2 separate regions of the Homo sapiens genome follow, and region 2 is linked to region 1. The links come from fine-mapping of genetic effects on gene expression. A gene starts in region 1. The other region holds a variant in brackets. All regions are shown on one strand. Distances are between the middles of the regions.

What was found. PIP is the estimated chance that this variant, and not a neighbour inherited with it, causes the effect.
Region 2: its variant is fine-mapped to the expression of FBH1 in whole blood (TOPMed, PIP above 0.99). The same link has a PIP of 0.9 or more in neutrophils.

Annotation. Positions count from the first base shown.
Region 1 is chr10:5,885,701-5,894,028 of GRCh38, forward strand. It overlaps FBH1 (F-box DNA helicase 1), which reads left to right and starts at 4,543. Exons shown (of 21, transcript NM_178150.3): 1 at 4,543-4,646. The coding sequence starts at 4,646. ANKRD16 (ankyrin repeat domain 16) reads right to left here and starts at 4,193. Exons shown (of 8, transcript NM_019046.3): 1 at 3,341-4,193; 2 at 2,147-2,367; 3 at 23-65. The coding sequence starts at 3,654. RefSeq lists silencers at 3,476-3,755, 3,766-3,875, 4,016-4,735, 4,926-4,975.
Region 2 is chr10:5,941,011-5,949,326 of GRCh38, forward strand. LOC105376384 (a long non-coding RNA gene) reads right to left here and starts at 4,904. Exons shown (of 2, transcript NR_188180.1): 1 at 4,645-4,904. It also overlaps a transcript of IL15RA not described here. RefSeq lists an enhancer at 4,105-4,663. The variant G/A (reference allele first, on the strand shown) is at 5,246.

The DNA of each region.
Region 1 (8,328 bases):
TGACTTGCTGTATTGTTCTTACCTCTTAAGAAGCACCTTGACTGCCTCCAAATGGCCATGCATTGCTGGGAGGAGAAAGAAAGCTGAGAATTAGAGCTTTTTAGTGCACACACAAAATGCTTCCTGCCTCCTGGCTTTGCTCTCTGCCCCGTTCTATTAGTGATAGCTTACAAGAAGGAGTCATTAAATTGGGTACACTGTTACCGCCCTACACGAATAAATATTTAACTGGATAAAGCGGTAAACAATAATGTTTTCACTTTATATGTACACAGCCAACACTTGATTATCTTATCTTCACGTGCACTTTCATGGGAAACTTTCAATCCTAAAGTTACACTTCTGTGCTGTGGATCCCCAAGACTAGTCCATTTTTGCCCAGGAAATGCAAAATATTGTAACAGTAATCCATGGCAAAATAGCCTGGATTTAATTCCCCTACTAAAAGTAACTATACTCAAAGGTTATGACTATTTGTCTTCCACTATTTTGGGTGAATGATGGAGTGCTGATTGTTTCTCCAGGGGAGAAACTGGTCAAATAATTCATGAGCTAAAAAAAAGTTTTCTACTTACTTAAGAAGTTTTAGAAATGATTCCTTGGTCCCTAATTGCCAACTGTGGCTCATGCCTGTAATCCCAGCACTTTGGGAGGCCAAGGTGGGTGGATCACTTCAGGTCAGGAGTTCAAGACCAGCCTGGCCAACAAGGGGAAACCCCATCTCTACTAAAAATATGAAAATTAGCTGGGCATGGTGGCATGCGCCAGTAATCCCAGCTTCTCGGGAGACTGAGGCACGTGAATTGCTTGAACCTGCGAGGCAGAGGTTGCAGTGAGCCGAGATCGTGCCACTGTATTCCAGCCTGGGTGACAGAGCAAGACTCTGTCTCAAAAAAAAACAAAAGACAAAAAGCAACACTATAAAACATCACAAGTGATGATTTTTAGAGAAACTAAAAGCCCTCTATCCTAATCAATGTACTACCTAGAAAGCTACAAGTTATATTCTGAATTTCTTAATCTAGACTCTTGAGCTCCTTAATATCTAACTTCTGAAATTACAGTAATTTTACTTTTTACTAATTGTTTTCTTTTTACTTTCTTCAAACAAATGAGCAAATTGAAACTTTTTACTAAAATAATCTACAAATAGATAATTCAGAGTTAAGAGTCACTACTCCAAATAATAAAAACTGTAACCCAAATTTACATTAGATGTTATTGGGCCAAGGTATTTAATTATGAGTATCTATATTTATTTAAAAGTATAGCACTATGGTAGGTGTTACTAAGGCTATGAGGATATATATTTCCCTCCTGCCTTTAAGAGTAAGAATGTAAACATGATAAAGAAAATAGCACTAACCAGTTATTTTGTGCTATGTGCCAAGCATTGTCTAAAGGATTTACATACATCATGCTCTTTAAACTCTACAACAACCCTGAGACATACCATCACTGACATTATTATTTGGTTGATGAGGAAACTTGCTCAAGAGAGAGACTAATTTCCTTACCCAAGGTCAAAGACTATGTGCTACAGAACCAGCTCATGGGCAAATAATCTAGGGAGGATAACACAGATACACACGAAAAATAAATTAATACCACAGCATGCTAGCCAAGTTATGTTAACTTTAGAAATTGATTATATGCCAAAAGGCCCCTAGATGCTTTTTTTTTTTTTTTGAGATGGAGTTTTGCTCTTGTTGCCCAGGCTGTAGTGTAATGTAGTGCAATCTTGGCTTAGTACAACCTCTGCCTCCTGGGTTCAAGCCATTCTCCTGCCTCAGACTCTGGAGCTCCCCAGTAGCTGGGATTACAAGCAGCCGCCACCACGCCCGGCTAATTTTTTGTATTTTTAGTAGAGACGGCGTTTCACCATGTTGGCCAGGCTGGTCTTGAACGCCTGACCTCAGGTGATCCACCCGCCTCCGGCCTCCCAAAGTGCTGGGATTACAGGCGTGAGCCACTGCACCCGCGCCCCCGCCCCCACCCCCTCCCCCCCAGATGTTCTTATTCTCTGCCTTCTGTTTTCCAAAATCCTCCTTTCCCCTGAAGGTGACCTGAACAAGATGCGGTTGGGCAGTGCTGGGTGAAGCAGCCACATGTGTGTACTGCTCACCTGCAGAGCTGTAGGCTGTACCTGCAGTATGCAGAGGAGTCCTTCTAATTTTGCTCTCTGTCTTCCAGGCACCTGGGCAAACAGTGAGCAGGTACTGGAGGATCAGAGGGTCGCCTTCTCGACTGGCAATGTGGAAACTGTTCCAGCCATCTTTGTTCTTCAGGAGTGGATTGGCGCCATGTTCCACCAGCTCCTGGATCACCCCCAGGTTCTTCCTTGTGCAGGCCATCATCAGAGGAGTCCTAAGGCCAACCAGGAGAAGCTGTCAGATGGAGGCAGCTGAGACATTAGAAGCCAGGGGCCAGGTCTTCAAAACACACACATCCTTGGCACAGATGGAAAACCTAGAGGATTCAGGGGTCTGGCAGGCAGGAAAACAGCTTTGACCGGCAACCTCTGTGCCTTCTGTGAGGACCCTGGGAGAAATAATAAGGGGAAAATGATTGTAACGAACGTGTACCTAGAGGAGAGGGTGCCTGGGAGACAAAGCAGCTTATAAGCTAGTTCACAGGATAGCAGTGAATTGGAGCAGAGCTAAGAAAACCCACAGACAACCCTCAACACATAACGAAGTCTATTCCCCTGCCCCAGTGGGGAAGATGTACTTCCCTATGTTCCTAAAGATGTTCACGCCCTCTAACGAACCTGACCTAGTGAGTACTAAAATCAGTGTCAATCTAACAAACGAAATGCAATTGGCTTGTGTGATGGTGGAGCAGAGTATCTCTGACTGTGGTGGTTATGCAAGGCTGCACGTATGTGATACAACTGCACTGTGCTCTACACACACGAGCGCGTGTATAACTCAGGAATTCTGGATATTGATTGGAGCAATGCCACTTGAAACAATGCATTGGTGCAGAAGTAACTTAGCTAAATGTCCCCAGAACATCGCATCCGGAGGCTATCTGTATAGTGCACACACTTCATTGTTTGGTAACATTCTCTTTGGTTATATTCTACACTATTCCGTGCTCTAGAAAGGGAGGTGACTGCCCCGACCAGTTAACCCACAAGGGCAGGAACGAGGGACTCTGCAGGTCATCTGCGTTATAAGGGAAAGTTGGGCAGGAGGTCCCTGCCGCTGAGCAGGCCTGGGGTGAGAACTAGGAGCTGAGAACAGCTACGGTGTCCAAGGGGACGGAGAAGCACAGGGAACTCGCTACGACTCTGCGAGTAGAGGGGAGGCGGGGTGTCTTTCCGCTCCACACCTACCAGTCGGCCTTCTTCAGGCAGTCGACCGCTGCCCCCCGGCCCAGCAGGTAGCGCACGCAGTCTCGGTGGCCCATGGAGGCCGCCTCGTGCAGAGGCCGCTTGTAGTCTCGGTTGGTGGCCTCGATGTCCATGCCCCAGGCCTCGGCCAGATAGGCCAGCACGTCCCGATGCCCGTGGCGCGCGGCGCAGTGCAGGAGGGTATCCCCGGCCGGCCCCGGGCAGCCCCCGGCCGCCTGCAGCTCCTCCTTCAGGGCGCGCAGCCGGCCCTCCTGCACCAGCCTGCAGAGGCGCCGCGGGTCCCCGGGCTGGGCCATCGCCGCGGGTCGGGCCGGGCTGCGCGGGGAGGCGGCGGGCGGGACACCGGCGGCCGGGCAGGGAGAAGCCGAGGGCGAGTGGGACTTTCCGCCTCTTCACGCAACCTGCCCCGCGCGCCCCGAACCCGGCAGAACCGCCCCTCACGCCCCCGGCTTTGTCCCCGGCAGAGCCGCCTCCTCAAACCCCCGGCCTAGTCCGCAGGCGGGCTGCCCCCTCACAGCCCCGGCCTGCCCCGCGTGGGAGAAGCCGCGGTTCCGGGCACGGGGCGGTTTTTCCTCAGGGACGGAGCGGTCCGGGATGAGCACGGAGGGGCCTGGGGATCCGAGAGCGCTGGCGTCCGCCGTCCTGGAGCTGCAGCGGCCCGTACGTGATTCGGGACTGAACACGTAAGGGAGTGGGGCGCGCCGCTACACCGCAAAGCCCCAAAGTGGAGGGTCCGGGAGGGCGCGCACAGCCTCGCCCGGCGCCGTGCAGGGTGGCTCCTGAGGCAGCCAGGCCCAAGCGTGACCTGCCCCGCACGCGTCCTCAGGGCCGCCCCAGCCTCCAGCCCCTGGGGGCCGGCGTTCCTGGGCTCCGCCCCCGTCCCCGCCCCTCGACCGCCGCTGCTCCGCGGGGACTCGGGGAGCTCGAAGGAACTCTGGGAAAGTTTCCCGCTCCGCCCCGGCCCGAGCGGAAGCGCGGATGGGGCGTGGCCCGGTAGCTGTGGCCGCGCCCCCACCGATTGCGCATTTCGATTGGCGTTAGTGGCCGTCCGTCAGCACGCCCCCTCCGGTCTCGCGTCCCGATTGGTCGCGGGGGCCGTCAGTCCGGCTCCGGCGGCGGGCGCTTCCCGGGGCTGCGGCGGGGCGGAGCTCGCGGAGGAAGTCGGCGGGCGTCTCGGGCTCCAGGTCCCGGCCAGAGGAGGAGCTCGCTGCCGGGGGACGCTGGGCTGAGCGGCCGGCGGCGCGGGCCCGGCGGCGGCGGCAGCGGGGTCCGGGTCCGGAGCGCCACAGTGCGTGAGGCCGCAGACGTGGCAGGGAGTGTGGGAGGGGCTCCGCCGTGTGGAAAACTTAACCTCCGGGGTCCTGCGCGGGGGGTCCGGGCCCGGGGTGGGGCAGCGGGGGCCCCGGGGGCGCGAGGCTGGGCTCGGGCAAGCGCGGGCGTGGGGGCTCGGCCGTCCGGGCCGTGGGCAGGTGGAGGGCGCGGCGGGGGTGCGCGGGGGAGGCCAGGGCGCTCACTGAACTCGGTCGGGAGCGGCCCCCGCGCTGCCCCCCGAGGCCAGGAAGGCGCAGCGTGTGGGTCCTCGGGGCTGAAGGGGCAAGCGCGGGGACGTGGCCTCGGCTGCTAGGAGGCCAGGCTTTCCCGTCTACTCTGACGTTTTGACCTTGGGCAAGTCATTTTTCGCTGCCCTCTGCCCCTGTGTCATCGGTAGCTTCTCTGCCCCTCCTCTGAGCATGGGAAGCCTAAGGCGATGTGGGAGGCCTGGCGCTGGTGGAGGGCACGGCGAGAGCTGGGCAGGCTGTGGGTGATGGAAGAGATCAGTAGGTGTTGGGTTCCTTACCCGATCTGATTAGGTGCCAGTCACTTAACCTCTCCATGTTTTCGATTCCTTTAGGGAGTAGAATGGGAGTAGCTCCTATTTGCCAGGCCTAAAAACGAGTGCCGTTTACATTTTTTATTGCAGTCTGTGGTCCGAAGACAACCCTATGAGGCATCAGTAGGGTTTTACAGGTGGGGAAGTGGAGGCCTAACCAAGTCAGTGACTTTCTTACAGAATTACAGGTAATAAAGTCTTCTGGAAGGCAGGATGGTAGCATGTGTTGAGTGTCCGCCAGCGTCTGCCGCTGTGGTAAAATGAGCGGAGATAAATGAAAAGACTTCTGGAATGGGCCCATGAAGATAAGTCCGTTTTACTCATGAGCAGATTGAGTTTGGTTAAGGTAACAGTGATGTGGATAGCCTCTGGAGACAGAACTAGTCCAAGTACCAGCTTTGCTCAGGTTATTGTTCTGTCGTGCCTTGTCACTCCAGCAAAAGAAAAAAAGGAAGGCATAAAAGTTGTTTGAAATGCACAAAAGTGTAGGGCGTGCCAAGCAGTGTTCTGCTGCCGTTGAAGTTAGTGCAAATTGGAAGTTGAGGCATCTGGTAGCTTCATGCTTTTTGCTTTTACCCCTGCCCCTCTCCCAGTTTCAGATGACTATCTTCTCTTGCATTATGTCTCTAGTTTCCCTGTTTTTTAAACATAATTGGGACACACGGGTTCACAGTAGGTTGGAATATATATATATATTTTGAGACAGAGTCTCGCTCTGTTGCTCCGGGTGGAGTGCAGTGGCACGATCTCGGCTCACTGCAACCTCCCCCTCCCGGGTTCAAGCAATTCTCCTGCCTCAGCCTCCCGAGTAGCTGGGATTACAGGCGTGTGCCACCATGCTCGGCTAATTTTTTTGTATTTTTAGTAGAGACGGGGTTTCACCATGTTGGCCAGGCTGGTCTTTAAACTCCTGGCCTCAAGTAATTCACCCAGCTCGGCCTCCCAAATGCTGGGATTACAGGCGTGAGCCACCGTGCCTAGCCAGGTTGGAATATTTGAACCCAGGATAATTGGTTACTTCATTGGTGTTGCACATTCGATTCTGCCTCTTGTGTCTTCTCTATGAACCTTCTTTGCTCTGTATCCCCCTTTGGATAACTAAATGATAATGTATGTGAATCTGTCCCGCAGCTCCTGTGATTTTCTGGGCAAAAGCTTGGTCTAGAGGGGCGGGATCTGAACAGTAAGCTAATGGATGGAGCTGTTTCCTGGGTCTTGCTGTTTTCCGGTTGGGCTGCTCATTTCTTTCGTGCAGACTTTTGGAGGTTGTGGTCTGGCCTTTACAGTCACGTCACATGTAGTCGTCATTGGCACCGACTTGCTCCTTGGCTGCCCTTCCTTTTCCTCCTGTTTTTCATGGGTATGCTGTTGAGCATGCCCATTGGTACACTGATCATTTGACAGGTTTCGTGATTTGTGAGTGTGTGTAGACACCACTATTGGTATTAGATTTAGAATTCTAATTTTGGGTTTGTTGACATCATCTTTTTGCTGCTTATCTCATTCCTCTATCCCTCCTAGGCTGATTTTATTTGGAAACTGAATTTGGATTCCATCTTTGCCTTTCTGGCTGTGAAATTACCTACTTTTAGAAAGCATCTCAAATCTTATATCTGTAACTGTCATTCACATGCCTTTTGAAGACCAGTCTCAGATTTCAGAGGACCTCCTGGAGCATAAACATGGTATTCCACAGATAACTTAAAGCCAGAAATTATTTTTAAAACTAGGACTTTCAGCCTCCCTCTCACTCCGGGGGAAAAAGTGATTAAAACACAAACACTGTTTCTCTTTTATTCCTTAACATGGTTAATGACATTAACATCTCTTTGAATGTTCTACTAGAAATGCCAGTTATCCTTGTTGCTCTTTATCTTTTATCTTTCTGTCTTGTCAAACAAAGCCATGTTCTTATGCACCTGCAGGGTCTGCTACTCTCAGGCCTTTGCCAATTCTCACATAGGTTGATATGGTGGCTTTCTGAGTTGTTTTCCTGACAATCTCCATGTCTCTCCACCTTCTATCCTCTCTCCCGAGTCACTGTCCTAAAGTGTAAATTTGATTGTGTAATGACCCTGCTTTAAAAATTGGATGAGGCCGGGCGCGGTGGCTGACGCCTGTAATCCTACCACTTTGGGAGGCCGAGGCAGGTGTATTGCCTGAGCTCAGGAGTTCTAGACCAGCCTGGGCAACACGGTGAAATCCTATCTCTACTAAAATACAAAAAATTAGCTGGCTGTGGCGGTGTGCACCTGTAGTCCCAGCTACTCGGAAGACTGAGGCAGGAGAATCACTTGAACCTGGGAGGCGGAGGTTGCAATGAGCCGAGACTGTGCCATTGTACCCCAGCCTGGACCACAGACAGAGTGAGACTCTGTCTGAAAACAAAAAACAAACAAACAAACAAAATTGGATGATACCTTGAAGCCCCTACCTGATAAAGTCCAATTTCTTTTTTTGAAGCCCAATTTCTTTATCATTATGTGTAAGGACCTTTGTAGTCTGTGGCTCCAAATTCCTTTTCCAGCCTTATCTCCTGTCATTCCTCATCAGGGAACCTCTTGTTTTGATGAAGCCCAGCTTTCCTGCCACTCTAGTGCATTGTTAATGCCTCTGTATTTTTGCACACATTGTTTCCTTCCGCCTTACTGAATCCCATGATTCTTTCAAGACTCAACTCTTCGTGAAGCCTTTTTCAACTTGCCTAACTCTATTTATGTTTCTTTACTATCATAACACTTCATGCATGCATTTATGTAGTTGTTATATTACTTTATCTTTAGTAACTTGTGTTTGTTTTGGTAGCTGCCTTATGGGTAGGCTTATTCACTTTTGTATCACTAATGTCTAAAATAGCATTTAACACCAAGGATACCATAAGACAAAGCTCTCATGGAGTTTAAAATGAATCTGGGACATAGCAGATACGTAAAAGTAGTTGTGGAATGAATTGACTGTAGAAAAAGCCTTTCAAATATATAAAATTATATTCTAGACCATAAGTAGTGATCTTTCTCTTGTTTTTCAAACATTCCTTTCTTTCTTTAGGAAAAACATAGAACGGAAAGCCCAGCCCATCCTTGTTGGCTGTCATACACGA
Region 2 (8,316 bases), 55 kb after region 1:
AAATACCAGTGGGAGGTGAAGATACGGACACCACGTAGACTAGTTCTCAGAAAGCAAGGCTGGCAAGAGGCAAGAAGTGGATAGGGGATGACGTGGCCTTAGGGAGGGGTTTTTGCTTTTAAAACGAGAGAGGTTTGTGCAGGGTTATGTGTTGAGAGGAAGCAAATTCAGAGAGGAGAGATGGAAGCCAGATGAGAGGGATTGGGACGGGAGAGATGAAGGAGAAAGGGGTACGTTGTAAGTGGTTAGGGAGGAAGTTTAGGTTGCTCTCACCCAATAATTTTCTGGTTTTTTTGAGACAGGGTCTTACTCTGTCACTCAGGCTGGAGTGCAGTGGTGCAGTGACAGTTCACTGTAGCCTTGACCTCCAGGCCCAGGTGACCCTCCCACCTCAGCCCCTCAAGTAGCTGGGACTACAGGTGCATGCCACCATGCCCGGCTAATTTTTGCTTATTTTTTGTAGAGATGAGGTGTCGCTCTGTTGCCCAGGCTGGTCTGAAACTCCTGGGCTCAAGCTGTCCACCTGCCTCAGTCTCCCAAAGTGCTGGGTTTAGCGTTTGGGATGGACATAGAAGGGAATGGAGTGGAAGGTGACGGAAAACACAGGTGTGCCGGGCAGCACCCTCCCAGTTGACATCAAACACCATCCTTTTAGCTGGTATTTTTCCTTTAGCAGCCCAGGCATGAGGGCAGAGACGTCGCATGGTGGACTCAGACACAGCTTAATAAACTTAAGGCAGTGCAGCACCCCCGTGGGACCTTCCTGCCTGGGAAGCTGGTCACTGTCACGCTGCCTGCCCAGCTTCCGTCCTGTAGTGGCATTTGGTCTGTGTCTGGGAGCAACTCACTGTATCACAAAGGGACTTTGACACCCCTAGAATCAGACTATTAGCAATTTAACATGTTTTTCAAGTCTGATCCTTGCCCTTCAGTCCTTCCTAGTCACCCTGAACCCCTGGCTTTAGCAATGTGGGGTACACCGAGAGCCTGGAAGCTGATCACTCTACATTTGCAGTGAGTGGGTGCGGTAGAGACGTCTGAACCGAGGCAGGCAGGGTTCCTCCAGCTCCTTGCCCAGACATGAAGACAGTGCTACACGCACGCCCCTGGCCAAGGCACCTCTGCACAGCTGGGCTGGTGTGGGGGGCAGGGCTCCCTTAGCCGGCAGGGGCTCTCCCTCTGCCTGGCCTACTTAAGGGACAGGTTCTCCATGAGGGCCCAGGAGGTGCCGTCCCCTGCGATCCTCCTCACTGGGGACCTGTGTGTGTTTTATCCCTAGTGGCGTGGGCTGAGAGGTAGGTTAGGTGGAGGGAGGGGGGCTTCCCACTCAAACGCCAAGGTCGCCAGTCGATCACTCCATTTGCTGTCTTCGTGACATCTCAGCCCTGCCATGTCCCACATGCAGCCCCTGATTTCCTTCCGAGCCTGGCTGGCTCCTCCACGCACCCTTCCCCACCTCCAGAAACAGCACCACCATCGGGCTGTGATACTTTTCTTCATGCCAGTTCACTGGGAAGCTCCACGCGGCCTCCAGGGTGCACCACCCACCCGCCCGCGACCCTCCACCGTTCTGCCTCCTGGACCAGTTGTAGTCTATGTTGCTCTGTGCCTCTGCCCTGGCCCAACTCGCTCCCATGTAGAGGGACCTGCAATCTTACAATGAAGACTAACGCCGGTCACCCTCCTGCCTCAACCCTGCAGGGCTCTCCTGTTGCGATGAGGGCGTCAGCCCAAGTTGGACCGCAGCGGAAAGGCTGGCGTTTCCTGTCCATTTCCAGGCTGGCCTCTGTCACCCTAAGCCTGTCTTTTAAAGGAACTCACTGAGGGCCCCAGGAAGCGGCCAGCACAGTGCTGACATCCTGGATTTTTCTTTTCTTCCTTTTTTAAATGTACAATTCAGTGGTTCTGATTTTTTTTTCTTTTCTTTTTTTTTTTTTTTTTTGAGACAGAGCCTCACTCTGTCACCCAGCCTGGAGTGCAGTGGTGAGATCTCCGCTCACTGCAACCTCTGCCTCCCGGGTTCAAGCGATTCTCCTGTCTCAGCCTCCCAAGTAGCTGGAATTACAAGCATATGTGACCACAACCAGCTAATTTTTGTATTTTTGGTAGAGACGGGGTTTCACCATGTCGGCCAGGCTGGTCTTGAACTCCTGACCTCAGGTGATCCACCTGCCTCAGCCTCCCAAAGTGCTGGGATTACAGGCGTGAGCCACTATGCCTGGCCTGAATTTTTTATTTTTTTTAAAGTAATCATTTTCCTAATACATGTCTTCCTAATCTGGACCCCACAGATTAAGAAATGCTTTAGTTTTTAATACCCATGGTATATTCTACTACCACTATGTGAAGAGTTGCAGTTAGAACTCTTCCAAAAGATCACATTAAAAAAAAAAATAGCATCAGCCTTTGGAGTCCAGGATGAACAATAAAATAAAAAATAAGTAGCATGGAGGTCACATGGAGAGAGCTTCACCAAGAATTGGCGACACCTGGTGACAGGTAACACTTTAATCAGCCTCACACACACATAATGGGGTCGGTCCCGCGTCCTCAGCCAGCTCCACGTATTTTAGAGTCTCTTACAACATCCCCACTTAATTGGCTGTGAGTGGCCCCAGAGCAAGGCTCTCAGGGGCGGGAAGCAGAAAGTGCTGATTCCACGGGCGTGCGGAGGAGGCTGGTGGCAGGGGCTCGGCTCAGCTGCTCCCAGGCATTCCTTCCTCCCCTGCTCATGTTCGGTGCCTCAGCGTCGCCGGGCAGGCTTCTCTTGGCCAGCCACCTGCAGGGCAGTGTCACGGGAGGCAAGGGAAGGGTAGGCTGGTCTTCTGTGTCTCTTAGGAGTGTGGCAGGCCGGGTCTCTCTTAGCAACCAGAGCAGCCAGCCTCACCAACACCTTACTATAACTCTGAGGAATATATAAATTAAACGAGGAAAATTGGAGAAACTGGTGCCTTAATACAAAGGCTAGAGTGTAAAAACAAGTCGATTAAGACCCCACCTGGGCTTTCTCCCAGACCTTAGAGTTTAATTAAAATAATGGAGGCGTTCTTGTGGACCTTGTACCATGATCCACTTTAAATTAAGTAATTGGGCCAGGAGCAGCGGCTCACGCCCGCAATCCCAGCACTTTGGGAGGCTGAGGGAGGAGGGTCGCTTGAGCCCAGGAGTTCAAGACCAGCCTGGGCAACATAGTGAGACCCTCCCTCTAAAATAAGAAAGAAAAAAAATGAAGTAATTGTTTCAAGGCTCTGAAGTAATTTTCCAGACCCCAGACCCTAGTGAAAGATTAAACAGAGGAATATACTTCAGCTTGGAGGTGTACTCCTGCACATAGGCATATGGTTTAAATGTGTATAAGCACTGAAAAAAAACTTATAATTTTAAATTAGTCTGGTGAGTTACTCTGACCTTCTCCCTGTAACCAGAAATAAACTCCCTTCTTCCCCACTCTGTCTGCAGCTTGTTATTGGACCATGAGAACAAGCAGCTGGACCTGGTTTTGTCTGGGAAGAGGCGCAAGAAAGCCTTTCCCACAGGCTTCTCCAGCTGACTCACATATTGTTGGTCAGAACTGGGCTACCTGCCCACTCCTAAGCCAATCATAGTAAGGAAGAATGGCTTCAAATCATCAGGGTTTTATTTCCTGGAGCTTGGGATGAGGTCAGCTTTCCATGATGCACACGGCTGGGTGAAATAATAAATCCTAAAAAAGTGGGAATGTATTTGCGAAGGAAGGGGCAGGTGCTGATTACCATGTAAGTAAATATACCTCATTAAGGAAGTGAACTCAACGTTTATTAGGAGCCTCCTGCAGGTAGACGCTATCAGGCCTTTGTGTATGTGAATTCCTTCAGTCCTCACAGCAAACCTGGGAGGCAGATGACAGCCGCCATTTGCAGATGAAGAAACAGGCTCTAAAGAGTCACGGGGCTGGGCCCACTGTGCTCAGTATCACAGAGCAGAGCTTGGATGAAAACTCAAGTTCAATCCCAAACCCATAGTATTTCCACTACCACTGTGTGAAGAGTTGGAGTTAGAACTCTTCCAAAAGATCAGTTTGTTTGTTTTTTTAAAGCATCTGCCTATGGAGTCCAGGATGAACAATAAAATAAATATTTAATAGCATGGAAGGCTTTCAGATGTTCTTAGCCATGGAATTCTTTAGGCTTAATTTTACTTCCAGTTAACAAATGCAGCCGCTGTGGTCACTCAGGAGGGGGATGGGCACCCAGAGTTCCTTCTCCGCTCCCGCCTGTGGTGGCCCCTCAGGTGCCTCTGCAGCCACCAGGGCTTCCCAGAACACTTGGAAAACACCTGCAGCCACTGCAGCCCCGGGACACTGACAGCAATTTGAGTACCCTCTGGGTGGCATTAACTCCAAGGAGATTTTGAAGATTACACCCCATTTTTGAATTATTTTGGAGACAAGAGTCCCACTCTGTCGCCCAGGCTGGAGCGCAGTGACGCGATCACCGCTCACTGCAGCCTCATGCTCCTGGGCTCAAGCGATCCTCCCACCTCAGATTCCTGAGTAGCTGGGACCCTAGGTGAGCCATGGCACCCAGTTATACACTTCTGTAACTAGGACTGTTGGCTCTCTGCCCAGAGGAATGAAGACACAGCTTCAGAAAGAGAAGCACTAACCTTCATGGTGAGGGCGTCCACCAGGAGGGAGTGGTTTTGCCAAGCGGGGACTTGAGGCAGACGGCCCAAGTTTCACCAACTGTGTTCAATCCTACGGGACCCTTGCTCTTTTTCAGTTTCATTTTCCTTCCAGTTACTGAGCAGCCCTCCCAGGACCCGAGGATGCAGGGCATGCAGGGGCGGCGCAGTGCTTCCCCGGCCAACCCCTGCCTTGCCGTCCGGTTGACCTGGCTGCCCAGCAGCCATGCTCTGTCTTTCCTGAACGTGTTGCTCAATTTCCTGTTTGGGTTTTTGCCTCCACCGCCCCCCCCCACCATTTAGAATGCTCCCTGCCCGTTTATTTAAATTCCACCCATCCTTCCAACTCACATCCTGCATTCCTCAAGCTTCCAGGCCTTGGAGCCATTTCTGCCTTTACTGGGCTCGTGTCCCATTAGTGTGTGTGCTTGTGGTGTAAGGTTTTGTTTCATATTTGTTCCGGTATGCTTCTCTTTTTGACCAGGCTGTAAACTTCTTGAGGATTAGTACCAGGCTTAACTGTCAGGATCTCTAGTGGCTAGCGAGGGGAGAGACAGACGCCAGGGTCTCCTGTGACCCTCAC[G/A]CCTCTGGGAAGGGAGTGCATGTGCCGTCATCCCCACTACAAAGATGAGGCAATGTCCGTGTGTGTAGTGTCTCCAAGTGACAGGGCCAGCAAAGGGTAGAATGGATGCTCAGCAAAGGGTAGAATGGATGCTCGACACTCAGGCTTTTAAGTTCTATCTTCTTTCCACTGCACAAAGATAGTATTTTGCAGATGCCACATGAATAGCACCGATAATAAGTGTTATGAAGGCTCAGAGGCAAATGATTTTGTACAACTGAGTCATTAGCCAAGGCTCCGGGGCTGGGCATGGTGGCTCACGCCTGTAGTCCCAGCACTATGGGAGGCCAAGGCGGGTGGATCACTTGAGATCAGGAGTTCCAGATCAGCCTGGACAACATGGCGAAACCCTGTCTCTATCAAAAATATAAAAATTAGCTGGGCATGGTGGCACGCACCTGTAGTCCCAGCTACTCAGGAAGCTGAGGCAGGAGAATCGCTTGAACTCGGGAGGCGGAGGTTGCAGTGAGTGGAGATCGTGCCACTGCACTCCAGCCTGAGCGACAGAGCGAGACTCTGTCTCAAAAAAAAAAACCCTCCAAAACTGAAACAACAGAGGCTCCTGGAGAAGGTAAACTTGATCTGGTTCTGGAAGGTGAGTTGGATGTAGGAGACTGTGAAGGAAGGACAGGGGCATTGGGCATTGGCTACGGGCTTGGCCTGTGAGGAGGCCGCAGGTGGGACGTGGGGGTGGAGGTGCTTGCAGCAGGGCCCGGCCCAGCCTTGGGGAGCTCTTGTTTCCACGGAACAGGCTGATTCCTGGGATCCTGAGGGTCTGATTGGGATTCTCAGCAAAGTTTTCTCCCCATGCAGAATGGGACAGGGGGAGGAAATTGTCAGCAGAACAGACTTCCTTTTGCAAGATGCCCCCCTCGAGCAGGAGGCAATGTTGCAGCATTGTCAGGCAGAACAGAGGGCTGCTTCTGAGGACAAGGGAGGGTGGGGGATCCTGTGAGTCCTCCAAATGTCCCCCTACATTTTTAATCCAGTACAGGAACCTCGCCCTTCTCCAATCAGTGCTCTCCCTTCAGCTGGGAAACCTGCTGGGGCCATGGATTCAGCTAATGTTCTTCCAACAACTTGACGGCTTAGACTGTTGTTTTTTTTTGGAGACTGTGTCTCCTCTGTCATCCAGGCTGGAGTGCTGTGGCATGATCTCGGCTCACTGCTACCTCCTGGGCTCAAGCAGTTCTCCCACCTCAGCCTCTTGAGTAGCTGGGACTACAGGCACATGCCACCACAACTGGCTAATTTTTGTATTTTTTGTAGAGACAGGGGTTTCGCCATGTTGTTTGGGCTGGTCTTGAACTCCTGGACTCAAGCGATCCACCTGCCTCGGCCTCCCAAAGTGTTTGGATTACAGGCATGAGCCACGGCGCCCAGCCAAAGGCTCAGACTCTTAAGATGGGTTTTCAGATATCCTGGCCTCGCATCTGTAAGGAATGAAATTCCGCGTTGTTCTAGGCAGTCTTTAGGTTTCAGCCTGTGGCTTGAATTCAGACTTTAGAGATTTGAACTTCTTATTCTCTAAGTTTTTCAGTGACATTAAAAGCAGCTACCCACTATGGGCTCAGATTTCTCATATCCATACGATTTCAGGATGGACGCAACATAGTCTCTGAGAGCCAGGCTTGCAGCAGGCATGACATCCCAGGCACCTCCTGGCGAACTAATTACCGAATTCCCTGGGCCGCTCCATTCCTGTCTCTGCATATCATCAGAACATTCACTCTTTTCTCTCGTCCCTAAGGCAGATAACCAGCCGCAGACACTCCTTATCTCCCCTCTTCTCCATAATTTGCAATACCCACTCCTGGTACCGAATTTCATATCAGCTAGGAACTTTTCAGTGACAAGTAATGAAAACAGAATCTGTTATAAAGAAAAAAAAATGTATTGGAAAGATACGAGGGGCTCATAGAATCCCGGAAAATGGGAGGCTTAGGTTTGGAATATGGTTAGGACCTAAAGACGCCTGGAGAGCCCAGAACAGGAGGCCCAGCAGCCAGTCAGAGCTTCTGAGGCCACTGCTGGCCACTGCCCTGTGAGTTCTGTGCTCTTCATTCTCTGTATTCAACAGCTTTGTAGTCTAGCTGAGAGGCCCTGGAGGCCACGCCCAGGCCAGGTGCCCACGCGTGGGGAGAGCAGGGAGAGGGGAGGTCAGCCCGTCTGTGTCAGTGGGTGATGAGGCACCCCAACAGGATGGAGGAGCCCCAGTGGAATTCTGCATTCCCATTCTTTCTCCTCCTTTGTGTGGAACATTTCTCCTTGGTGATTTTTTTTTTTTTTTTGAATTGGAGTCTCGCTGCGTCTCTCAGGCTGGAGTGCAGGGGTATGATCTCGGCTCACTGCAACCTCCACCCCCAGAGTTCAAGTGATTCTCCTGCCTCAGCCTCCCAAATAGCTGGGATTACAGACGCTCACCACCACGCCAGGCTAATTTTTGTGTTTTTAGTAGAGATGGGGTTTCACCATGTTGGCCAGGCTGGTCTCAATTTCCTGACCTCAGGTGATCCACCCGCCTCGGCCTCCCAAAGTACTGGGATTACAGGCATGAGCCACCCTGCCCGGCCATCCTTGGTGATTCTTTTAATGCATTTTAAAATATTGAAAATATATATTTTATTTTGTTTATACAAGGCACAATGTCAAAATACAAATCATATATAATGTGTAGATATAACAGACAAGGAAGTATAAATGCATATATATGTAAAATGGCGCTGAGATGAGTTTTCTTCTTCCTGAATCCTTCGATGGAGAGGATTCACTGGGCTTAGCATCTCCTCCACCTTTTCCGGCTCCCTGTCAGTGCGTGCAGCACAGCTGGAGACAGGGTCATTGGGAGGAGCCCAAACGCTGGTGTCTTCCCTATAGACATCTCCCACGCCAGGAGGAGCCTTGTAATTGACAGAGAGCCTCAGGTATGTCACTTTTCTCTGTGAGCTGCAAGTCAGGATGAGGGACGGACGGTTTCAGGAGAGGAGGAGGTGTTTCATCCTGAATAGCTAAGAACAGCACCACTAGAATGG